2 separate regions of the Homo sapiens genome follow, and region 1 is linked to region 2. The links come from fine-mapping of genetic effects on gene expression. Tissue or cell type: whole blood. Region 2 holds a variant in brackets; the other region holds the start of a gene. All regions are shown on one strand. Distances are from middle to middle.

Region 1 (4,391 bases), 96 kb after region 2:
TCCGCCTCCCAGGTTCAAGCGGTTCTCCTGCCTCAGCCTCCCAAGTAGTTCGGATTACATGTGCCCGCCACCACGCCCAGCTAATTTTTGTATTTTTAGTAGAGACGGGGTTTCACCATGTTGGCCAGGCTGTTCTCGAATTCCTGACCTCAAGTGATCCACCCACCTTGGCCTCACAAAGTGCTTCTCAATCTCAAAAAGAGATTGAGAAAATTAAGAAATGTCTGGTTGAACTTTTACAGCTACTGTCCCCACTGCCTCTACCACCGCGCTGGGCCTCAGATTGTATAAAACATTTTAATTGGGAGGCCATTATGCTGAAACAGCTCCAACTGCCTTGGATTTCCTGCTTAAGCAAACTCCAGCCCAAGGTCAACAGTGAAAGGAAACTTAAGCTTAACCTATCAGAAACTGCCAACTAACCTCTAACTAGTAATTTTCCACCAAGTCATAGCTAAATAAGGCAAACAGTCATAGCCAACCAAGTAATTATTTTCCTTTGCTTCCCTGTTCGGCCTATAAAAGCCCATGCTACTAAAGCAGACCTCTCTGAACCCCTTCTGGTTTAAGTACTGCCGATTCATAAGTTGTTCTTTGCTCAAATAAAAAAGGTTATCCTACTTTGTCTGAAGTCTTTCTTTTAATAAGATGTTAGGTTTCCACACTAGGCAGGTTCTCCATAAACACTTTCACCATTTTTATTTCTTCTCCTAAGTCATGTATATATACTTTTTTACTGGCATCTAAGTGTTCTGCCTCAGATTAATGTACTAGATTAAGAACTAGGAATCATGCCTATTTCTACAAAAGAATCGTTCTTTGAATTAAGCCTTTGGACCTTCCTGATGTCATCCAATTCCTGCTTTCAGTCATCGAAGTGGGCAGTCAGGTGGTTTTAATATTGCTCCAGAAGGTGTTTGATTAAAGTTGCCAGAAGCCTTACAAATTGTTATGTAGATAGAAGGAAAATGTACTGAAAGCTATTTTTTTTACCACTCTTCATGGGTGGTTTTGAGGTACTTTAAAGGAAAGGGCTAGCAGGTATAGAAAACTAAAGGTAAGCAAAATACTCTGCATTCTAATGTACTGTTGGAGTGCTGAGATTCTTTCAAACGAAATCCTCGTTCCTTGGAAACATAAATGGATTATCCTACCTTGTTTGCTTTTTACACCCAGAGTGCTTCCGCAGAGGCACAGCAGGGGAATGAAAGGAGCTTGCCTTAGGAGGCAGATCTGGTTTGAACTCTCGCCTGCCTACGCAGGCACTTACAGGCTGTGAGGCCTGAGGAGTTACTCAACTTCTCTGAGCCCGAGCTTCCTCATCTATAAATTGAAGGATCCGTAAACAGGAAGGCCCTCATCGAGTGGTCAAAGCTGGTTTCGGCGCCCACGGCACCTCTCCTTAGGGCTCCGTTCTACCCTAACTTCTCTTCGTGCCCTGAAGCCCAGACCTAGAGGAGCAGAGGAAGGCGCTGACCTCGAAATCTGGATGGTGGCGAATCGGGCGGCAGAGCTCAGGCTCCGGGCATGGGCAGTCGGTCCCGGCCGCGAGCCGCAGCGCCAGCAGCGCCAGCAGCGCCAGCAGCGCTAGACCCGGGACGCCGCTCGGCGGGCTAGAGACGAGGCGCCAGCGTCGAAGCTGCGGCCGGGACATAGCAGCAGGTCTAGCGGGCCGGAGTGGGTTCCTACCGCCTGGGTGGGCGGGGCCTGCTGCGCGTCGGGGCAGGAAGGGGCGGGGAGAGTCGGGAAGGGCGGGGAGGGGCGGGAGGGGCGGGGCTCCGGGGCGGGCGTGGGAGGTCGGGCTTCGAGCGTCCCCGGGCGCTACAGGTGGGTGAAGTTAAGTGGCTGCTGGAGCGTCTCGGGGGACAGCCAGTGTCTGCGGCGCCGAGAGGGCCGTTCGTGGACTCAAATGGGTATCACCCCTACCGTTTATAGTCCTCCCAATAGTCTGCATCTCGTTTTGTCGTGGCTGGTCGTGTACTCCTTGTGGAGTCTGAAGGTACAAGGGGATCCCCAAAATGGAGAAGTGGGTGTCTTTGGAAGGGCCTACTGAGTAACATGGTTGGAGTGGCCAAAAGACTTTGTTTTTCTTTTGCTACTCAAAAGAAAGCTGGAATACCAAAAATTTTTACTTACGGATATCAGGTCTTAGTTAAGATCGTGGTTTGAATTCAAGCATCTAATTTTGCCTACTCTCCTGTTAAAAATCAAGTTTAACAACCTAAACACAAGGACAAAGAGATAACAGCAACAAAATGTTGGAAGCTGGAGAGCACAAGTATGAGTATGAGAGGTAAATCGGAAAAGGGGGAGATTAGTCAAAGGCTGCTCAAGGACTCTGATCGCTAGATCCTTTTTCCAGCTTCATGTCTCTGGGCAGCTGCCCCTCTTTCCCACCACGGGCTCCCACCCCGGCTGAATTCCCTGAAGGGGATAAATTCTCTGCTGAGTGGGTATTCCACCTAAAACGGAGAATAAGTGGCTTTATGCCTACTGAAAACTGAAACCCCTCGCTATCTGATTAACCTAAGAGGCTGAGCAAAGATACTGACATCGGGTTTTCTGGACAAATCATACACCCAGATCACCCTACAGTGAAATTCAAAGTTAAAAGCACCAGCTATCTACTTGGAGCTTCCTCTCTTTGTACTTTTTAATTTTTACTTTTAATCATGGACAGCAACCAAAAAAATCCAATAATGTAGAAAGAAGGGACCCAAACAACAGACAAAGGAATATGGAGGAAGCAGATGCTGCAGGGAGAACACTTTTAAAAATTCTCATAATAGCCCCAGAAAAATAAGAGAAGATGAAGCCACAACAGGGTGCAATAAAAGGGGTAGGGGATTTTTAAAAGTTAATAGAAATAAGAAAGAAGTGAAAAAACTATTAGTAGAAGATAACACTGAGGAATGTAGAGCAAAAACTCTGAAAGATAAGAAAATTGGAAAACGCAGTACAGAGGGGATGAAATAAATAATTCTTAAAGGTGCTTGAGAAGCAGCGTAGTACAAATAAGAAGAAATAAGTAATTTGGGCTGGGCACAGTGGTTCATGCTTGTAATCCCGGCACTGTGGGAGGCCGAGGTGGGCAGATCACTTGAGCTCAGGAGTTTGAGACCAGCCTGGCCAACATTGTGAAACCCCATCTCTACTAAAAATACAAAAATTATCTGGGCATGGTGGCAGACACCTGTAATCCCAGCTACTCGGAAGGCTGAGGCAGGAGAATCGCTTGAACCTGGGAGGTGGAGGTTGCAGAGATCACACCACTGCACTCCAGCCTCAGCAACAGAGTGAGACTCTGTCTCCAAAAAAAAAAAAAAAAAAGAAAAGAAAAGAAATAAGTAATTATCAAGGCTCCAGGACTGAAGAACACGCGTTTTCAGAATGAAAAGCTAGGCCAGGCACTGTGGCTCACACCTGCAATTGCATAACTTTGGCAGGCCAAGGCAGGAGGATTACTTGAGGGCAGGAGTTTGAGACCAGCCTGGGGAACATAGACCCTGTCTCTACAAAAAATAAAAAGCAAAAAATTAGCCCTGTGTGCCAGTGCGGTGGTAAAAGCTTGTAGTCCCAGCTGCTCGGGAGGCTGAGATGAGAGGATTGCTTGAAGCCGGGAGGTTGAGGCTGAAGTGAACTATGATCATGCCACTGCACTCCAGCCTGGGTGACAAAACAAGATCCTGTCTCAAAAAAAAAAAAAGTACAATTGAACCTCCATAACCAGAGGTTCCACATCCATGGTTTTAACCAATGTCAGATAACAGTATTTAAAAATAACAAATAATACAGCAATTTAAAAATGCAAATAAAAATACGGCAAGAGCACTGTCAACATAGCATTACATCGTATTATTATAATTAATCTAGAGATTATTTGAAGTACAGGAGGATGTGCATAGATTATGCCATTTTATATAAGGGACTTGAGCATCCATGGATTTTGGTATCTGGGAGTCCTGGAACCAATCCCTCATGATACTGAAATGTAACTATGTTTTTAACATGAATGGTTGCACTGAATCAAGTTTTCAAGGAAAAGAGCCTTCTGACTCATAGAATCAGACTGTATTCTGTGACACAGAAGAAAACACATATCTACCTGTGTTAGGGATCCCTAAGATCACCTCCAGGTTCAGTGATGCACTAAAAGAACTCATAGGACTCAGTTGTACTCACAGTTAAGATTTATTACAGCAGAAGAATATGAAGCAAAAGAGCAAAGGGAAAAAGTGCACAGGAAGAAGACAGGAGGAGGCCAAGCACAAGCATCACGTTGTAACATGTGTGAAGGGCTGTCTGCCATGGAAGCTCATTAGAGACTCAGGGAACAGCAGGAACACTCCCAAATCCACCTACAGGCCAACCTTCAGGAAGCAGGCCTTTCT
Region 2 (4,391 bases):
TGTGATCTAATAGCAGGTTTGGATGGAGCTTGTGTTCTGGAAGACACAGTTTTGATGCTTTTAATATCCTGCTGTTGTTAAATAGAATTTGAATGGGTGAAAAATGAAATGTGGACAAAAACATATTGGATTCTCAAAACACGAAATATAGATATTGGTACATAAAATTTGAAATTAAGGCAGATTCTGGAAAACTGACTCCTAACAGTAAATCAAAAGGGATTTCTTGTTGCTATTTGGAAAGCATTTTCATAAAATTAGAATGAAGAATACAGCAAATTTAACCACTAGGAAAACACTTTCTTCACTTGCCTTCCATGACATTCTACTCTCTTGATTTTCTCTTCTCCTTCTCCTTTGCTGGGTCCTCCTTTTCTTTCCATCTCTTCATGCAGGACTCCTCCAGGGTTCAGTCCTTGATCTTCTTTTTTCAGTTTTCTATCTACACTCATTCTAATGGTTTGAAATACTACCTATGTGCCAATTACTTCCAAAGTTTGATCTTTAGCCCACACCTCTCTGTCCTGCTGCAGAATCATACATCCCAACTGACTAGTTGACACCACCAATCAGATCACTAAAAAGTATCTCAAACTTAACATTTCCAAAACTGAAATCTTGATCTTACCTCTCAGATTTGTTCCATCTGAACTTTCCCGCATTTCACCTGATGGTAACTCCATCCTTTGAATCACTCAGGTCGAAAGTCTTGGAGTCATCCTTGACTCTTTCATGTCCTCCCTTCAGTTCCATCAGTAACTTTACCTTCCAGAGGAATCACTTCTCAACCACCTACACAAGACTTACCCTGGTTCAGGCCACTATCATTTCTTCCCTTCTTCCACACACCCTGCCCCTGCATAGGCTCTTCTCAAAAGAAGATTCTGAATGACGCTTTTACTTTATTTTTATTTATTTTTTTGAGAGGGTCTCACCCTCTCACCCAGGCTGGAATGCAGTGGCACCAACATGGCTCATTGCAACCTAGCCTTCCAGGCTCAATGGATCCTACTGCCTCAGCCTCCTGAGTAGCTGGGACCACAGATGTACACCATGCCCAAACAGATATATATATTTTTTTACTTTTTGTAGACATGGGGTCTCACAGTGTTGCCAAAGCTGGTCTTGAACTCCCAGGCTCAAGCAATCCTCCTGCCTTGGCCTCCCAAAGTGCTAAAATTACAGGCATGGGCCACTGCACCAGCCTGATACTTTTAAGATGTTAAGATCATACCATTCTTTTCCTCAAAATTCTATAAGAGATCTTCATCTCACATAAAATAAAAGCCAAAGTCCTTACAAAACTCTACACCACCTGTCCAATCTCAACACTTCTTGCCTTTCCTGGCTTGCTACTGACTAGGAGCATTGGAGCTGGCTGTTTGCTTTGCCAGGACAGCTTTTCTCCTTGATAACCAGCTTTTCTCAGATTAACAGCTCTTCCCTCAGATAACTAGTTTAGCCCATTACCTCCTTCAAACCTTGGCTCAATGTAACGTTTTCAATGAAGCCTACTCTGAGAATCCTATTTAAAATTGCAACGTACTTTGGGAGTCCAGGGCGGACAGATCACCTGAAATCAAGAGTACAAGACCAGCCTGGCCAACATGGTGAAACTCCATCTCTGCAAAAATACAAAAATTAGCCGGGCATGGTGGCACGTGTTTGTAGTCCCAGCTACTCAGGAGGAGGAGTTTGCAGTGATCGGAGATCGTGCCACTGCACTCCAGCCTGGGCATTAAAGCAAGGCTCCGTCTCAAAAAGATGAATGTCTCTTCATCTTCTTTTATCCTGTTCTATTTTTTTTCCATACCATGTCTTACTCTGTAGCTCACCATAATTTATTTGTATGCT[C/A]ATTTTAGGTTTCCCTCAAGTAAAACGTAAACTAATCCAGGCACGGTTTTTGTTGTTGTTCCATTATTTTGAGGGCTGGGCACATAGATGCGCAAGGAGTGCCCAAACTCATCATCTCACTCTTTATACAGCTGGGCAAACTGCCTAAAGTTTCCTCAAGCCTCAGCTTTACTATTTTCTTGAATGGCTAAAACTCACAAAACACATCTAGCGTCAAAAACTTTGCGACCCCGGAAGTAAAAGGTTAAGGAAGGGGGTCACAGGAGAAGGCTATTTCCGTTTCCGTACGGAAGCAAAGGAGCCAAGACCATGGCGAAAGCCGGGGATAAGAGCAGCAGCAGCGGGAAGAAAAGTCTAAAACGGAAAGCCGCTGCCGAAGAACTTCAGGAGGCTGCAGGCGCTGGGGATGGGGCGACGGAAAACGGGGTCCAACCCCCGAAAGCGGCTGCCTTTCCGCCAGGCTTTAGCATTTCGGAGATTAAAAACAAACAGCGGCGACACTTAATGTTCACGCGGTGGAAACAGCAGCAGCGGAAGGTACGCGAGAGGCGGGGGCTGCCGGGCGCTTGCGCGTTGTTCCTGACGCTTAGGGCGGTCGCGGGGCGCACATCTGTGGTTGTCTGCTGGTCTCAAAAGTGTTCTCTGTGGCTCCGTGGGAAGGGTGGCGTCGCGGCCCACGTGTTCTGGTCCCCTCGCCCTAGTTTGGAGACTCTAGGTTCAGCCTTTTGCCTGAGCGTCAAGGTGGAAGATTATCTTGATAGGCTCTTTCCTGGGACGCTAGATTCACAAGGAAAGCTGTAAGGCCAGTTGGCTTAGTAGTGAAAACTACGCCCTCCTGGCCCAGAAGGCAAAAGTCTCAGCCCTTTGGTCCGTCTAGGTAGCGTTGGTTAATTTGCAGAATCTGAAATGGAGGCAATACGTAATAAATCCAAAATACTGCTTCTCTGATTCCTGCAGGAGCTCCTTACCGAAATTAGTACTGTAAAGTTTCTGGTAATTGTATTTGTTCTTTTCAGCTTTATCCTTATACGTTTCTGGTAGGTAAACAAACTGAAACGTAAAGAGGTTTAAACGACTTGTCAAGGTCGCAGTGCTCATTTCTGGTTAAATTGCAATTGGAAGAAAACGTTTGCTTATTCTTGCACATCGTAGAAGTTCACACAATATTATTATTATGTGTCTGCCTCCTCTTACTGGCCCTTCTGAGGCCCGGGACTGGTTCTTACTCATGTTCAGTGTCAAGGTGCTGTTTCAATACATACAAGGGGCGTTTAACTCATTCTGGTATGCACGTATTGGGGAGGGATGTCCTGGAAGACTTATTGGAGCTATGATTTCTAATCTGAAACCTGGTGGATTGAGGATCAGTAGGTGCTGGGGAAAAAAGAATATTTTTTATTTTGTCAAGCATTCTATCTAGAAATCTCCAGAAGAATATATAGATTGACAATACAAATACAGATAATCTTAAGCCACCTTGCAAGCTCTTACTAAATTTTAGAAGTATATTTTGATTATAAAATATGTGAATAACTGGTGATGGTTTTATGGAAAACAACCTGAAAACTCAGCTCCCATTCCTATTTTTAGTGCTTTTCAAGAGAAGCAAGCAGCATAACCATGGTCGTCTTTAGGATGCCACCAGTTAGGCAAAACAAAACACAGTGGAAACCATCACATACTTTAATTAATTTGAGGCTTTATGGAAAAAGGTTAAGCTACTCAAATTTTAAATGTTCAAACTTGCCAGTTTAGATTTTTTTAAAGGAGCAGGTCTTTGTTAAAGAAATCTTATTGATTGGCCAGCTCATTTGGCTTACAGTAATTTAGGTAGAAAACTCCACGTCCAGATGCTTATTTCAATAGATTACAAAGACCGCCCAGTTCGAGTATTCATAGCATTAGTAATTTGTAGTTTCAGTATGTGTTTGTGATATAACTGGTTGTTTCTCAGTATTGTTCTCTTTTTTTTTAACCCTTTAGGAAAAGTTGGCAGCTAAGAAAAAACTTAAAAAAGAAAGAGAGGCTCTTGGCGATAAGGTAAATAAAATTTTTAGCTGTTTGCTTTCTATCTTATATTAGGGAATCCCTCCTGATATTTAAGTTGAATTACTTTCTTTTAAAATTTATTATTACGTATTTCAGATGTATGAAGAAATACAAAAGTAATATAATAAACCTCTTTGTATCATTTACCCAGCTTAAGAAATAATGCATTAGCAAAGAATGTTGGAAGCCCCTCGTCTGCTTCATAATTGCTTTTCCCTCCGAAGATAACCACTCGTGAAATTTTTGATTATTTTTTCCATGCACTTCTTTTACCTTTACTGTGTATGTTTGTGTACCTATACGGTAACACAGTGGTGGTATTTTGCATATAACTTTGTGTTTCAGAGGTCAACACCTCTCCCTGACTTTGGGAATGGGGAAGCTCCCCCAGGTTAGGCCTGGAGCTTGGCTCTTGTCATGTGAAGCAAAGATTTTTGGTCAGGCAAGGCTGGGGAAAGGCAGGACAGATCCTCTTCTGGAGTAGGGTG

What was found. PIP is the estimated chance that this variant, and not a neighbour inherited with it, causes the effect.
Region 1: it holds the start of CTBS, and the variant in region 2 is the best candidate, but not a certain one, in a credible set for the expression of CTBS in whole blood (TOPMed, PIP 0.71).

Annotation. Positions count from the first base shown.
Region 1 is chr1:84,572,762-84,577,152 of GRCh38, forward strand. CTBS (chitobiase) reads right to left here and starts at 1,679. Exons shown (of 7, transcript NM_004388.3): 1 at 1,478-1,679. The coding sequence starts at 1,654. RefSeq lists enhancers at 269-318, 1,032-1,131, 1,242-1,531 and a silencer at 1,692-1,811.
Region 2 is chr1:84,477,119-84,481,509 of GRCh38, forward strand. RPF1 (ribosome production factor 1 homolog) reads left to right here and starts at 2,148. Exons shown (of 9, transcript NM_025065.7): 1 at 2,148-2,391; 2 at 3,838-3,894. The coding sequence starts at 2,164. RefSeq lists enhancers at 1,809-2,369, 2,565-2,724. The variant C/A (reference allele first, on the strand shown) is at 1,855.